Linked DNA regions of Homo sapiens: region 2 is linked to region 1. A link means that fine-mapping ties the variant in region 1 to the expression of a gene that starts in the linked region. Tissue or cell type: caudate. Region 1 holds a variant in brackets; the other region holds the start of a gene. All regions are shown on one strand. Distances are from middle to middle.

What was found.
Region 2: PASK starts here. The variant in region 1 is fine-mapped to the expression of PASK in caudate (GTEx, PIP above 0.99). The same link has a PIP of 0.9 or more in putamen.

The regions. Positions count from the first base shown.
Region 1 is chr2:241,170,861-241,179,191 of GRCh38, forward strand. The region is part of intron 9 of PPP1R7 (protein phosphatase 1 regulatory subunit 7); the gene reads left to right. The region is part of intron 2 of LOC105373971 (a long non-coding RNA gene); the gene reads right to left. Among named protein-coding and RNA genes, the nearest start is that of ANO7, 14 kb to the right of the region's middle. The variant G/A (reference allele first, on the strand shown) is at 3,476.
Region 2 is chr2:241,146,052-241,154,382 of GRCh38, forward strand. PASK (PAS domain containing serine/threonine kinase) reads right to left here and starts at 3,421. Exons shown (of 18, transcript NM_015148.4): 1 at 3,363-3,421. PPP1R7 (protein phosphatase 1 regulatory subunit 7) reads left to right here and starts at 4,416. Exons shown (of 10, transcript NM_002712.3): 1 at 4,416-4,496; 2 at 7,425-7,553. The coding sequence starts at 4,445. RefSeq lists enhancers at 2,375-2,534, 4,048-4,207 and silencers at 2,788-2,837, 2,888-2,947, 3,008-3,367, 4,498-4,837.

The DNA of each region.
Region 1 (8,331 bases):
GATAAAGATGTACCAGGCCAGGGGGAGCCTCAATGAGTCCAGGTGGGTCTATGTGCAGCCCACCCTTGAAGGAAGGTGTGGCTGGTGGTAGGCTGGTTGAATTAGTGCATAGGGAGTTGGCAAAGAAGCCAGGGAACAACACAAAGAAACCAAACAACAGGAATAAGGAGTCCAGAGACAGAGGACCAGGTGATAGGGAAAGGGCACCTGGCAAAAAATTAGGGAGCAGGTTTGGGAAACGAGCTGATACTGAAGCAATGTTCCTGAAGCGTAACGATTCCTTCTGCATGCCCTGCCTAGGAACAGAGCATGGGGCACAGAGTGCTGAGACCACAGGCAGGGGCCAACCTGGGTACCACAGCTAGCAGGGAGGCAGGCAGGCTGGTGATCAATCACTAGGGGCCAGGTAGTGCCTGACCCTGTAACACAGAAGAATCCTGTTCCTTAGGCCACCAAAGATAGTAAAAAATAGCCAGAATTTGCACAGCGCTTTATGGTGTCCATACCTCTCTCCATTCTGATCCAATTATCACAGCAACCATGTGGATAAGGTCATATTACCCCATTTTACAGGTAAAGAATTGCATTCCAGGAAGGAAAGCTGCAAACCAGGAATTCTCAAACTCAGTTCCATGCTCATATCACATTTGAGAGGCACATCATTCATCTCTAAGGCAGAAATAGAAAACCAGTCTTAACAAGTTTCTGATAACCCACATACTATGTTTGTTGATTTTTCTGCCTATTTGTTCCAATTACTGAGAGGAGAATGTTGAAACCTTCCAACTATAATTGTCAATGGATCCATTTCTCCTTTCAGTTCCATCAGTTTTTGTTTCTTGTATTTTGAAAGTCTGTTATCAGGTGCATACATATTTAGAATTGAGGAATTCTTGATGAATTGATCCATTTATCATATGAAATGTTCTTCTTTCTTGCTTATCCTCTTTATCCTTGTCCTGGAAGGGTATCTTGTCTGTTATTAACACAGCCCCTTCATCTGTCTTATGATTAGCGCTCTCATGGAATCTTTCTCCATCCATTTCCTCTTAACCCATGCCTTTATAATTAAAATGTGTTTTTCATAAAAAGTATGTAACTAGATCTTGCTTTCTTCTCCAGTCTGAGAATCTCTGCCTTTTAAGTGGTGTCTTTAGACTGCTTACATTTAATATAATTACATTTAATTACATTTTGTGTAATGGTTGAGTTTAAGTCTATCATCTTAGTATTTGTTTTTTATTTGTCTCATCTATTCTTTGTTTACTCTTTCCTACCTACTTTTTGGAGTGACTTTTTTTTTTTTGCAGTCTATTTTAACTCTATTATTGGCTTATTTGCTATACCTCTGTATTAGTGTTTTCTTGTTGATTGTTTGGAGGGAGGGTTGTTTTAGCGATTAGAATTTAAAAATACATTTTTAATTTTCACCATCTATATATTTTACATTTAAATATCTTACGATCCCCATGATACCTTATCTTTTAAAGAAATTTAAAAATGGCCAGGCGCAGTGGCTCATGCCTGTAATCCTAGCACTTTGGGAGGCCAAGGCAGGTGGATCACCTGAGATCAGGAGTTTGAGACCAGCCTGGCCAACGTGGTGAAACCCTGTCTCTACTAAAAATGCAAAACTTAGCTGGGCATGGTGGCACATGCTGTAGTCCAAGCTACTCAGGAGGCTAAGGCACGACAATCACTTGAACCTGGCAAGTGGAGATTGCAGTGGGCCAAGATCGTGCCACTGCACTCCAGCCTGGGCAAAAAAGTGAAACTCCGTCTCAAAAAAAAAAAAAAAGAAATTTAAAAACAAGAAAACTCACTTATTTTACCTTTTCTGGCATTGTTTATTCTTTCGTGTGGATCTGAGTTTCCACTTGGTATTTCCCTTCCACCTGAAGAATTCTATTGTTTTGTCGTGCATTCTGCAGTAAACCAATCCTTCACTTTGATTTGTTTGAAAAATCTATTTAATTTGCCTGCATTTTTGGAATTTAATATTATGGATACACAATTCTAGCTTGAGAGATTTTTTTTTCCTTTTTAAGTACATTAAATACTTTGTTCTTTCATCCTCTGGTTTGCATTATTTCTCCTTTATAAAATTTTTATTATTTTAAAAATATTTTTTAAAAATAAATAGAGATGGGGCCAGACACGGTGGCTCACACCTGTAATCCCAAGGTGGATCACTTCAGGTCAGGAGTTTGAGACCAACCTGACCAACATGGCGAAACCCCGTCTCAACTAAAAATTCAAAAATTAGCTGGGCGTGGTGGCACGTGCCTGTAGTCCCAGCTACTGGGGAGGCTGAGACAGGAGAATCGCTTGAATCCAGGAGGCAGAGGTTGCAGTGAGCCAAGATCATGCCACTGTAGTCCAACTTGGGCAACAGAGCAAGACTTTCTCAAAAAAAAAAAAAAAAAAAAAAAAGGACGGGATCTTGCCATGTTGCCCAGACTGGTCTCGAACTCCTGAGCTCAGACAGTCCTCCTGCCTCAGCCTCCCAAAGGGCTGGGAGTACAGGTGTGAGCCACCACACACGGCCCTGGTTTGCATTATTTCTAATAAGAAGCCAGCAGTCATTTTTATCTTTTTTCCTCTGGCTGCTTTTTAATGTTCTTTTTAATCATTGTTTCTTATTTTGTTTTGTTTTTTGCAACTTGAATATAGCGTGCCATGGTGTAGTTTATTTTCTGTGATGTGTCAGGGTTAACTGGGTCTGTGAATCTATGGTCTTCATCAAATGTGGAAAGCTTCTGGAGACTATTTTCTCTAAAACTGCTTCTGCCCTTGCTCCTCACCCCGGTTTCTCTCTGAAAACCCAGTTATGCATGTTCCCCTGGCACTAGCGAGGCCCCTGAGGCCATTGCCTCCACCCTGCTCCACCCCTTGGGCTTTCATCTTGCTGTGCTTGTTTGTATAATTTCTGTTGTTAAATCTTCAAGATCATGATCTTATCATCTGTAGTAGCCTATCTGCTGTTAAGCCCATGTCATGAATTTTTTATTTCAGATACTGTATTTTTCTCAACTCTAAAAGAACATTTGGCTTTATTTTTTTTTTTTTGGTAGATTATTTTTCTCTCTTCATTAGATTCATGTTTTCCTTTAAGTCCTTCCTTCTTCACGTCTTGTAATTTTTTATTAGATCCTGGGCTTTATGGTGTTCAATTGTTGAATGTCTGGAATTTATGTTGTTTTCCTTCAAAACATACTGAACTTTATCTGACAGGCAATTAAGTTACAGCTTGATCCTTTTGAGGCTTGTTTTTAAGCTTTATTAGAGTACATCTAAATAGTCTACTCCGTAAGATTAATCTAGCACTGTTTTGAAGCTGTGGCCCTCCTAGGATCTCTGGTGAATATCCTGTGTATTTAAGTTCTCTCCACTGTGGTTGACGGGAACACAAACATGGACCTGCTATGGGTGAGCTCTGGGCATTCTGCATCTTGGGGCTGCTTAGTAGTTCTTC[G/A]ACCAGCCTTTAGCTTTTCACTCTGCCTAGCACAGCTTCATCTTCAGTCCAGGATTCCACAGGATACCATGTGGATTTCTGGAGGCTTTTTCCCTACATAGCTCACTCCTATCTATACATTCCAGCTCCCTTTGCCTCCCCAAACTACAATCACCATCTCAACTCTGTGTGGCCACCAGGCTCTGCTTGGGTTCCGCCTCCTTGTGGTCCTGAAAGTTCCTCCAGGCAGAAGGCCGGGATGATCACACCACCCACCTCATTTGTTTCCTGTCTCTCAAGAATCACTATCTGTGTTGCCTGTTGTCTGATGTATAAAAACAATTATTTCATATATTTTATCCTCTTTTTTTTTTTTTTGAGATAGAGTCTTGCTCTGTCGCCCAGGCTGGAGTGCAGTGGCGCGATCTCAGCTCACTGCAAGCTCCGCCTCCTGGGTTCACACCATTCTCCTGCCTCAGTCTCCTGAGTAGCTGGGACTACCGGTGCCCGCCACCACGCCTGGCTAATTTTTTTTGTATTTTAGTAGAGACAGGGTTTCACTGTGTTAGCCAGGACAGTCTCCATCTCCTGACCTCATGATCCGCCCGCCTTGGCCTCCCCAGGTGCTGGGATTACAGGTGTGAGCCACCGCGCCCGGCCTATTCTATCCTATTTTCTAGTAGCTTGTGACAAAGGCAGGAGCTCAGCACCAGCTATTCTGTCATGGCTTGAAACAGAAGTCCTACTTATTTATCTTACTTTTGTGTCTGTCTCCCCCACTGTATAATACAAACCTCATAAGGGCAGGGAAATTAGTGTTTGGTTTACTTTGTTTTCCCTCCCAATTTCTTTATTGTGGTAAAACATGCATAAAATAAAACTCACCATCTTAACCATGTGGAAGTGTACAGTGAGTGGTATTCAGCACATTCGTAATGGTGCACAGCCATCACCACCGTCCATCTCCAGGACTCTTTTCAACTTATAAAACTGGAACTCTGTACCCATTAAACAATAACTCCCTATTTTCCCCTTCCCAGACCTTGACAATGACCCTTCTACTTTCTGTCTCTATGAATTTAACTACAGACCTCATATCACTGGAATCATGCAGTATTTATTTTTGTGACTGGCTTACTTCACTCAGCATATTGACCTGAAGATTCACCCATTCTGTAAGCATGTGTCAGAATTGCCTTTCTTTTTAGGGCCAAATAATATTCCGCAGTATGGATATTGTTTTGTTCACTCTTATCTCACCAGCATCTGGAATAGTGCCTGATACACTTTTTTCTTTTGAGACAGAGTCTTGTTCTGTCACCCAGGCTAGAGTGCAGTAGCATGATCATGGCTCACTGAAGCCTTGGCCTCCTGAGTTCAAGTGATCCTCCCACCTCAGCCTCCCAAGTAGCTGGGACTGCAGGTGTGCACCAATGACCTGGCTACATTTGTGGGTTTTTTGTTTTGTTTCGTTTTTTGTTTTTTTGAGATGGAGTTTTGCTCTTGTCACCCAGGCTGGAGTGCAATGGCACAATCTCACTGCAGCCTCCGCTTTCCAGGTTCAAACGATTCTCCTGCCTCAGCCTCTCAGTAGCTGGGATTACAGGTGAATGCCACCACGCCTGGCTAATTTTTGCATTTTTAGCAGAGACGGGGTTTCACCATGTTGGCCAGGATGGTCTCAAACTCCTGACCTCAGGTAATCCGCCCACCTCGGCTTCCCAAAGTGCTGGGATTACAGGAGTGAGCCACTATGTCTGGACCATTTTAAAATCTTTTGTAGAGACAAGGTCTCACTGTGGTGTCCAGGCTGGTCTCAAACTCCTGAACTCAAGCAATCCTCCTGCCTGGGCCTCCCAAAGTGCTGGGATTACAGGTGTGAGCCACCATGCCCAGTCAGTGCCTGAAACATATTTGAATGAGCAGAAGGAACATAGAAAAGGCTGGCCAACTGGGTGGAGGCCAGCTACAGATAACATTGGAAAATATGTTATCCACATGTGTCAGATGCAGGGCTAACATCCTTACATTAAAAACAGCTCACACCCAGGTACCACTTGAAAACTAGGGTGTTCACAGAGCAAGAAGTAACAGTTGCTTGTAAATACATAAAGCATTTCCTATCTCATTAATTTTTTTTTCTTTCTTTTTTTTTTTTTTGAGATGGAGCTTTGCTCCTGTCGTCCAGGCTAGAGTGTAGTGGCACGATCTCGGCTCACTGCAACCTCCACCTCCCGGGTTCAAGTGATTCTCCTGCCTCAGCCTCCCAAGTAGTTGGGATTACAGGTGGCTGCCACCACCATGCCTGGCTAATTTTTGTATTTTTAGTAGAGACGGGGTTTTGCCATGTTGGCCAGGCTGGTCTTGAACTCCTGGCCTCCAGTGATCTGCCTGCCTCGGCTTCCCAAAGTGTTGGGATTACAGGCGTGAGCCACTGTGCCTGGCCATATCTCATTAACTTTTAAAATCTACTAAAACAGTGAGATACAGTGTTATCTGTCAGGTTGGTGAAGACTCATAGAATGCAGCTGCAACCAGCCTGTGATGGCAGCAGGCACTCTCGTGACTACGGAGATAGCTGTGTTTCATACAAGTTTTCTGTAGGGCATTTAGAGCCTTAAAAATACCACATGCAGCTGGGCACGGTGGCTCACACCTGTCATCCCAGCACTTTGGGAGGCTGAGACGGGTGGGTCACCTAAGGTCAGGAGTTTGAGACTAGTCTAACCAATATGGTGAAACCCCATCTCTACTAAAAATACAAAAATGAGCCAGGCGTGGCGGCATGCACCTATAGTCTCAGCTACTGGAGAGGCTGAGACAGGAGAATTGCTTGAACCCAGGAGGCGGAGGTTGCAGTGAGCCAAGATCGTGCCACTGCACGATCAGGTCAGGAGATCGAGACCATCCTAGCCAACATGGTGAAACCCTGTCTCTACTAAAATACAAAAATTTAGCTGGATGTGGTGGCACGCGCCTGTAGTCACCACTACTCGGGAGGCTGAGGCAGGAGAATCGCTTGAACCTGGGAGGCAGAGGTTGCAGTGAGCCAAGATTGTGCCACTGCACTCTAGCCTGGCGACAAAGCTAGACTCCACCTTAAAAAAAAAAAAATCATAGAGAGCTTCCTAACCAAGATTTAAAAATCAGTGAAAAAAGAAAGAATAGGTATATCTAATTTTATAAAGCGTATGTATTTTGCATGATGAAAGAGTCCATTGGTCGCCTGAGAGGTTAAGGTTAAGGTTATTTTCTATGACATACAAAAAGTTCTTTAAAGTGAAAGAAAGCGATTCAATAGAAAAATAGGTGGAGGATAGCAATACACAGTTCACCAATATGATGCATCCCGCCCCTGCCATACGCGACTTGTTTCAAGCTGACATCCAGGGCCTGGAGGGTGGGCTGAGACCAGCACTGCCCTGCTCAGGCCCCCACCCTCTTCCCAGTAATCCAGGGGAAAGGTAGCATCACAGTGACCAAAGGCAGTAGCCAGGGGAGGAGAAACATTTGGCAGGAAAGTTTCCACCCTCATGGTGTCTGATGCCGGCATGGAGCCCATCTGCCCACTGCCCTGCTGGCACAGGGGCTTCCCCAGGACCCTCCCAGATGCTCTGTTGGCAGATGCTGCCCGCTCGTTTAAGCCAAGTGATGCCATTTAAATTACATTGCAGGCCTGCTCCATGCCACAGCTGTGCTTCCTCAGCCCTCTTGATGGAATGCTTTCCTGTAGGCAGCGCCCTGCACAAGCAGCCTGTGCCAGCTTGGCACCCCTGACCCAGGGCTGTCTGGGTGTGAGCTGCAAGGAGCGGGGGGCACAGGTAGGGGCTGCTCGAGGAGAGGCTGTGTGCCTCCCTCCCAGCATGTGTGCCTGGCCTGGGCCCACTTTCTGCTCCCCTTCAGTCTAGTGATGGCCATTTCATTAGGTTTCAGTTGCATTCCTTTAATTACAGATGAGTCTAACCCTGGCGCCTCTGTTTTCAACCACTTTGTCCTTTTGTTCCCTCTTGATACTTTCTGCTAGCTTTAGTCCAGTGCATTTTCCCTTTTATTATTAACTTATAGAGATTCTATCAATGAATGATACTAAACCTTAGTATGTCATCTGTGTTGCAGATACTTTACTTTGTCACTGGTCTTCAGCTTTTTTTTTTTTTTTTGAGACAGAGTCTGGCTCTGTCACCCAGGCTGGAGTGCAGTGGCGTGATCTCGGCTCACTGCAAGCTCCACCTCCTGGGTTCACACCATTCTCCTGCCTCAACCTCCCGAGTAGCTAGGACTACAGGTGCCCGCCACCACGCTCCGCTAATTTTTTTTTTTTTTTTTTAGACGGAGTCTGGCTCTGTCCCCCAGGCTGGAGTGCAGTGGCGCAATCTCCGCTCACTGTAACCTCCGCCTCCCGGGTTCAAGGGATTCTCTTGCCTCAGCCTCCCGAGTAGCTCACCATCCCCACGGACAGCTCTCGATGTGGCCGTGCCTGTGTCTGGCAGCCTCACCATCCCCACGGACGGCTCTTGATGGGCCGTGCCTGTGTCACGCATCTCCTTTGTTAAACTGTCATGGAGATTTTCAGAAAATAAGTGATTTTTACATTCTACCAGTTGTTTATGAAATGTATCTTAAGAATTCTACCCATCTTTTGCTTAAAACATTACTGAGTTTGGGGTAATTAATGTGAATTTTCTATAATATCAGCCAAAAAAATTGTGAAGGGAAATACAGGTATCCTATGTATGTATATGCAAAATACACAGATAGAAAACCCCATAAATACAAAATGCAAGTTTGGGTTCCAAAAACCAAAAGAGTCTGCCAGGAAAACGTCAGCCAAGAAGATGTTCTCTAGCAGAATCCCAGCCGTTGGTTCGGGCAAGGGA
Region 2 (8,331 bases), 25 kb before region 1:
GAAAATTAATATCCAGAATAGCTTTAAAAGATCAACTATTTAAAATTTAAACATTTTTAAAAGACACATGGCCCAATAAAAAATGTCAAGAAATAGGAACAAGCGTTTTACAGGAGAGGAAATCCTAATCATGATGATGTTATACCTACTAAGTCAGCAGAAATGAAGAATCTAGTAATACCCAATGTCAAAAAGGATTTGGATCAACAGGAACTCTTAATACATTAATATAATCTCTTTAGAAAACAATTCAAGTGAAACATTTGTCTATATGGATACAGCACTTTTCACTTAGATTTATATTTCAGAGAAATTTTTGCAAACAGATAAGAAGACACCAGAATGTTCGGGACAATATGGTTCTCAATGGCAAAGAGACAGGCAGAAAAAAGGGAGGGAAGAAAGGGAGGGAGTGCGGGAGAGAGGGAGGAAAAAAGGAAATGAAACCCAAACACTCTTTAACAAGAAGATAGATTTTAAATTCTGGTATATTCATACCACTAATTACAGCAGTGAAAACAAATAAACTACACACAAGGGTGAATCTTAGCCATATACGAGTGGAAAAAATCAAGTTACGGAAGACAATCAGCAGGAGGATTCCTTTGTCATGAAATAATCTAAATAAGTAGTTCAGGGAAACACACCTATGTAATTAAACTACTTCTTAAATAAGAGACTGGTAAACCTAAATTTCAGGCAGGTGGTTCCCTCTGGGTCAGGCAGGTGCAAGAGTGGGGAAGAGGCACAAGGGCACAGGTCCCCTGATTTCCTAGGGTGATGGGTTCAAATGCATCCACTCTGCTGGTACAATTCATGACTAACACTGCCTTTATTCTTTTGTATGAATAAACTGATACGGCCAAAAAATTCAGAGACATTCACACACAAACCCAGCCTAGGACCCTGGAAGGCAAAGGCTCTGCAAACCTGCAGATGTGTAGGAAGCTATTACATATAGGGTTTGGGGTTCGAGTGTGCAGCTTTCCTACAAGCAGCAACAATGAATGGGACCTTTAGTTACAGGTTTACATCTCCTTCTCTAAGCATCCAAATGCACTAATTATTGCCATAATAAATAACAATGACATGATTATAGTGTGAGGCAGTTTTTTCTACTTTTAGAACCAACCTATAGACAAAGCTCAGGACACTTAATTATAGCTTCAGAATACATTGTAAATGTTGTAAAACCTTACTTTCTTAAAAAAGTAATATAACTCTTCAGAATACATTGTTAGAAAACTTTAATTCCTAAAAAATATAACTCTTCAGACTGCAATGTCAATGTTACAAAACTATTTTAAAAAGTCATATACCCAGTACTTTGGGAGGCCAGGCAGATTACTTGAGCCCAGGAGTTCGAGATCAGCCTGGGCAACATAGGGAGACCCCATCTCTACAAAAAAAAAATTAAAAATTAGCAAGGTGTGGTGGCACATGCTGGTAGTCCCAGCTGCTTGGGAGGTTGAGGTGGGAGAATCGCTTCAGCCCAGGAGGCGGAGGCTGCAGTGAGAGGACACAGCACCACTGCACTCCAGCCTGGGCCACAGAGCAAGACCCTGTCTCAAAAAATAAAATAATAAAAAAGTAATATAACTATTCAGAATATATTGTAAATGTTACAGAAGTTTCTTTGTAAAAGTAACTAACATGAAATGGAAAGGGGGAAAAAAAGCAAAGGGAGGGTAAGGGCATGCAATTTTTTGTCCTTCATGGGAGAAAGTAAATAAATACCAACTAAAGTTGTGGAAGTTTAATTAGGTTACTGAGAGTTACAAGCCTATCCAGGAGGGAAACTGATGGGACCCTCTGCGGGAGCGGGGAGGACAGCAGGAAAGATGCATCCTTTTTCCCGCTGTGCCTCCTGGGCATCTGAAGTCCACGTGGGCCAGTTTGTCACTGAACAGCATAGGCCCCTGGAGCCTCCCGTGCACTCCACAGCCACAGCCTGGCCTCAAGAAAGAACAGAGTCTGGCTTCACATGACCTTAGATCACTAAATTTTGACTCAGACGTTAACCAGAAATACCTGCACGTCCAGGCCCAAATTTTTAAAATTGTCCTTTGTATCCACTGTGAGCTGCAGACACGGGAACCCAAACCCAGCAGACAGCACCTAATGGTGCCACCGAGTAACCATATTCCCATTGCTAGTTTTGATTCCAGAAGACACAAGTGACCCCACCTCAGACCAAACAGAAGCAAGGACAACTTTGCAGGGAGCATCTCGGCGAACTTCTAGAAGCAACTGTCCCCCTCCCACCAGAACATAAGCTAAGAAGCAAACAGCTCCCATTGCTGTCAGCACAGCTGTACAACAAAAAGGAGAACCAGTTTCAGGATGAGGCCAACAAGGTGAACAGTGCAGTAGAACACAGCAAGGATGTCAGTCCTGGAGGAGGCACCTGCAGAGCCGGGCCCTACCAAGCAGAGTGAAGAAGTCTTTCAGAGGCAAAGCCTCCCAGAGAGGAGTTCAGTACCCAGAAGAGTAGGTGGACGTGGGCCTGGAAGGGCCAAGCATGAGCCCAGAGCCTCCTATGCCTGCCCAAAGTCTTAATTTTATCCCCAAAATGAACTTTTAAGGATTCAATGCTTAGGAGTAACATGGCCAGATATGCATTTTACAAAGATTACTCCAGGGACCATGTCGGTGCAAGGCTGGAAAGCAGGAGAAAGGCTACAGTAATCCAGGCAAGAAATTATAAAGTCTTAAATTAAGGTAGCAGCAGAAAGATGAAGAGAGGGAACCCCTAAGAGAAAAATGGACATCGAATGGTACTGAGATGCGGAAGGTAAGGACGAGAAAGGCCTCAAGACGGCAGCGCAGGCCCCTGCCGTACTCTGGGAAAGAAAAATTAGTGAAAAAATTAAGGCTCAAGTCCAGGTCTTTGCTGTAACCACGAGCGCCGGCGGCGCGCGCCCCCGACCCCGCGGCGCCGGCTGAGCCCGCAGGGACCCACACGCCCAGTGCAGGAGGCTGGCGGGATCCGGGCTGGTTCTCCTGGAGCTCGCCCCGCAGGGCCGGCTGCGGTGAAGAGAGCGCAGGGTCCCGAGGCGACCCGAGGCGCGGGGCCTCGGCGCCCACCGGGCAGGCTACACTGAAGGGCACCCCGAAGACGCTGGGGGCGCGGGGCCCAGGGCCAACGGCCGCAACCCCGCCGCGATTTGGGCACGGAGAGGACGCGGGCTCGGCGGTGCGCGAAGGGCGACGGGCGCAGGGGCGGGAGACCCGGGGTCGGGCTGGTCTAAGAGTCGGGCGGCGGATCCTCCTGGGCCAGGGGCGCGGAGCCGCGCAGGCCCCACAGCCGCCCTGGGGAGATGGCGGAGCCCGGCCCGCTCTCCCGAGCGCAGGTATCTCACCTGGATCAGGCGAGGGTCACGCCAAGCCGGCTACACACCACGGAAAGGAGCCCTTCCGCGCTTTTATCCCACCGACCAATCGCACAGCGACTAGCACCGATTGACAAGCTCCACGGACCAGCCACTTGCGCGTATGGGCGGGACTAAGCTAGCCAGAGTCTAGAAGCCCGCGCTAAGGGTTGCTAGGGACGCACCAAACACCCCTACGGCGCTTCGGAGGAGCCAAAGGAATAATGGGCGCCTCCGCCCCCGGGCCGGGCAGATGCGGTTTCCTCCCGACTCGCGATCAAAATGGGTGAGTAGCGCAGAGCTCGCCTCTTGGAGGCCTCTTTCTGAAGGCGGAGGACGCGGGGCGGCTCGTTCATGGGCCGGGTGGCTCCGCAGGGTAGACGAAGGCTGCAGCGTCCGCACTGGGCTGGGAACGACTTGCAAGGGGAGCCCAGCTGGCGCCCCGGAGCCAGCCAGCTGGCTAGCGGCCCCACCAGCGCAAGTGCCCCGCACCTGCCCGCCTGCTCCGAGCGTCAAGAGAAGGCGGCATTTCGCATGGGTAAAATCCGCGCGGGGACGCCGGGAGAATGTTGTTGCTCTTGCCGTTCGGCCCATTGTACAGACGCAGCCAGCGAGGCTCGCAGAGGTCAGGGATGCACGTAGGACTGGCCCGCACCTTGCAGCCACGGAAAGATCCGCCTGGCCCGCGGCCCCTCCACGCCTCCGAGGTCGAGACAGTGACATAAGTCAACTCTCAAGCCCAGGGCGTCTCTCCACTCTGCCTAGACGTCCACTCCGTCTGCCTGCAGCTACGGCTCTGTGCGTCCCGCTTCGACTCCCTCTGCTTTCCTTCCCAGCTTCTCGCCTCCAGACTGTTCCGGCTCCGCCGCCTGAAATTACCTGCTCTGGGGGAGGCGCGGCGCGCGGCCTCATGACGGAACTACAACTCCCATGAGGCGCTGGGCCCACGCAGGCGCGGCGCGGCTGAAGTCGCCGCGCCGGAATCCCATTGGCAGGGCCGGCTCTGAGGCGGGAGCCCTGATTGGCTGAGGGGTCTGAGGCGACAGATTCCGGAAAGGGGAAGAGCAGCCAACATGGCGGCGGAACGCGGCGCGGGGCAGCAACAGTCGCAGGAGATGATGGAGGGTGAGCGGCCCCTGCGGGCGGCGGCCCAAGGGCCCAGCGGGCGGGGGGAGCTGCGGGCTGGAACTGCTCCGTGCCTGAGAGAAACTCCACGTCCTGCCTCTGGCCGCCGCCGCGCGGCCCCCTGACAGCTGACAGCCGGACCCGGGGGAGCGGGGGAGGCGCTGGACCTCGGGGGAGCCCCGGCCCGGGGGCGGCAGCGGCCGGGAAGGACCCAGAGCTAGGGGGAGAGCGGCGGCGCGAGGCCAGGCCGGGGGTGGGGCTGAATGGGACGCGGTGGCTCCATTCAGTCCAGTTGGAGCCTCGCCCCGAGCCTCTGAGATTGACGGGCGGGGGAGCCTCCTCGGTCAGCTGACGAGGAAACTGAGGCGCTGGGATCTACCAGAGTCTGCTCCTTGGTTCACGTGGTGAGGGTGGAGAAGGGTCTTCTCTTGAAATCGAATGGACTGTTGGGAAGGGGTAACAAGGAACCGGAAGATTGAGTTACACAAGGTGATACCTGTTTTCAAAGCTGTCATAGTTCCAAAAAGTCTGAATTCAACTTTCTTCCTCCTCATTCACTTTGTTGGAAAAAAAAACCACATGCATATATGTATATGTTATACGTACACATGTGTTTATAATTTTCTGCATATCTGTAGGTACAGTCATATACGTGCACGTACAGTATGTGTGTAAAAATGCGTGCACACACCCACTTAGCAACTGGGGAATCAGTTGTGTCATCAGCTTAAGTACTTTTGGGTCCCATGGTTTGGTGAGGGGTACAGACCTCCCAGAAGAGCAGTCACTGCCTTATGTGAAAGGGGTAGGGAAGAGGAATGTGGAGCTGGGGAAGGAGGGCGGGTGCAGCAGGAAGGCCTGACATGTTAGGGAGTGGTGACAGCTGCAGAAGCAGGGCGAGCTCTGAGCTGGAGCCTGAAGAATAACTCGAAGGCAACGAGGTTGGGGATAGGGTGAGGGAAAAGAGCAAGAATCACTCAAGACGGAGAAAACTGCTGTCAAAAGGTGTGGAGGAGAGTTTGACCAAATCGTATGTGGTGGGGATGGGGGCGGTAGTGTTAAGGGTCTTGGACTTCATACCCTTTGAGTCTTTTTAAGAAGCGCCTCTTCATATCCTCCCACTCCCTCTTCAGCTGTTTCCATGTCTTGGTAAATGACAGATATAAAAGCCCGGCTTTTCTCACTGTCCCACTCCCACCCATGTCCTGTTAGTCAAGGAGCTCTGACTTTTACTTTTGAAAGTATCTCCAAATCTCCGATACGTCCTCCATTCCCATTGCCAGTACCTTAACTCAGACCTTCATCATCTCTAGGCTAGATTGATTGTCCCTGTTCACCAGCCCATCATCCCCAGTACACCAAAGTCATTTTCTTACATGCAGAGCCACTGTCCCATGTTCCAGACCCTCTCTGCTGCCCTCAGGCTTCACTTTGGCCAACCTTCGTTAGCTAAGCCTTTGCTAACCTCACACCACTCCTCCTCTTACTGGGGTTTTTGTGCCAGATTGTCATGCAGTAGAACTTTCTCTCCCTGAGCCTGGACCACCAAGTGACCTGTGCCTGGTGGTGACTAATTTGTTATATATCTACTGCATGTCATGCACGTGCTAACTGCTCTTGTGCCTTTTCTAATTTAACCGTGACAGCAACTTGCTGAGGCATAGGTGCTATACTAGCTCCCTTCCACAGACTAGGAGATTGAGGCTTTCAAATGGAAACGATTTGCCAAAGCTGCATCTCTAGCAGCAAGATGCAAACTCAGGAAGAGCATTCCAGAAATACTTTTGGACTCAAAAGATCAGATTTGGATTTTAGAATTAGATCAGACTCTCTGGCAGGGGAGAATAGGTTAAGCAGGGCAAGACAAGTCACAGAGACGAGTTAGGAGGCAGGGCAGGAGCCCAGGCTGCAGCTAATAAGTAAGTGAGCCACCGTCATTGCGGGGGTAGGGAAGAAGAGATGGATTTGGAGGTTTTGGAGGTGGGTTTTATAAGGACTTGTTTTCTACAGCAATCCTTTCTTGGGTTTTACTTTGCTAGGCTAAGCGGGAAGTACAAAGATGAAGTTGAACTTTTTCCCTCAAAGAGCACATCTCTTTGTAGATAAACCATAGTCAGGAAAGAGTATTTTCAGTATGGTTGATAATTCCAAGTAATGTGTTAGTGCCTCATGTTTTCCAGACAGACTTCCAAAAGAGGTCATGAGTAAAGTTATAAAAAAGAAAAATGATTTGACAACCTTACCAAAGAATTTTTACCTGACACATTGAATTGCCTTATTCTTTAATTCAAAAAATATTTATGAACCTTTAAAAGCCTTAAGTTGCTAACACTCTGTCCAGTGTCCAGTGTGAAAGCTCATTTCACACCAATGAGCTTTCTGTGGGCGGTCAGCACTATTGGCTGTATTCTCCTTTTCCTTAGTGATCCTCCCTGCCCACAGTCTGATTTGAGTTAGTCTTGATTTCTTTCAGAACGTGGGCCTGTGAACTTGGCTGGTTTTCTTAGCCAGATAAATAGTGGAGCATGGATGGAGGTATGTGGCAGAAGGGTCACAGTGGTGATCCCCCAGCCCAAAAGTGAAAGGCACTCAGGAGGTGCTTCACTACCGGGTTCCATTAGTGGATTTAATCACAGGTGATCCAAGGCTTTCAGAACACTGGGCAATTCTTCACAAGCTCCTTGAGGGCAGAAGTAGTGTGTTCCTCACCTAAGTATCCATGTGGGCTCCACACTCTGCTCCCCATTCTCCCCGCGGCCATATGCCTCAAATGGTGCTGGGACATGGGAGACACTCAGATGTTCGTTGAACTGGATTCAACAAACATGTTTAAATGAAATCCTTTTGACTTACAACCGGGTGTTTATTATATGTTCCTCAAAGTCCCATAAAGTGGATGTGAATTCTCATTGACATGTGTGGGTTCAGTTGACAGGCGGGTCGAGTCTGAAGAATCCGGCGATGAAGAAGGGAAGAAACACAGCAGTGGCATCGTGGCCGACCTCAGTGAACAGAGCCTGAAGGATGGGGAGGAGCGGGGGGAGGAGGACCCAGAAGGTACCAGGCCCAGCTCCCTTGGGGACATCTGCTGGTTGGGGGATGTGGGCTGTGCTGCACGTGGTCTGGCCCTGGGTGTGGGTGCTGTGTCGGTCTGGAGAAGGACTGCCGTGCTCCTTAGGGGTCCTCAGTGGCCCAGGGCAGGTGGATATGCTCTTTGAGGTGCTCCTTCAGCAGGCTGACTCATTGATGGCGTTTGCAAAAAGGATGTGGTTTTTTCCAATTCCACTGAAGGCAAATCCTAGCACAAATATGGGTACTAGTATGCCGTCTGAGACAGAACCATGACATTGTTGGCCAGATGCAGTGGCTCATGCCTGTAATCCCAGCACTTTGGAAGGCCAAGGCGGGTGGATCACGAGGTCAGGAGATCAAGCCCATCCTGGCCAACATGGTGAAACCCTGTCTCTACAAAAAATACAAAAATTAGCTGGGCGTGGCAGCGTGTGCCTGTAATCCCAGTTACTCAGGAGGCTGAGGCAGGAGAACCGCTTGAACCCAGGAGGTGGAGGTTGCAGTGAGCCGAGAACACACCACTGCACTCCAGCCTAGGTGACAGAGGGATACTCCTTCTCAAAAAAAAAAAAAAAAAAAAAAAAAGGAAAAAGAAAAGAACCGCAATATTGTTATATTAACCATATGTTTAGGAAATGAGATTCGAAATAAATGTTATGGCTGACTGCTGTGTTTCTATGTCCTACCATAGCAATAGAAACCTTTAATCTCTGAGAGAAATTATTTCTGAGTCTTGCCTTACCATTTTTATAGGCCTGAGGAT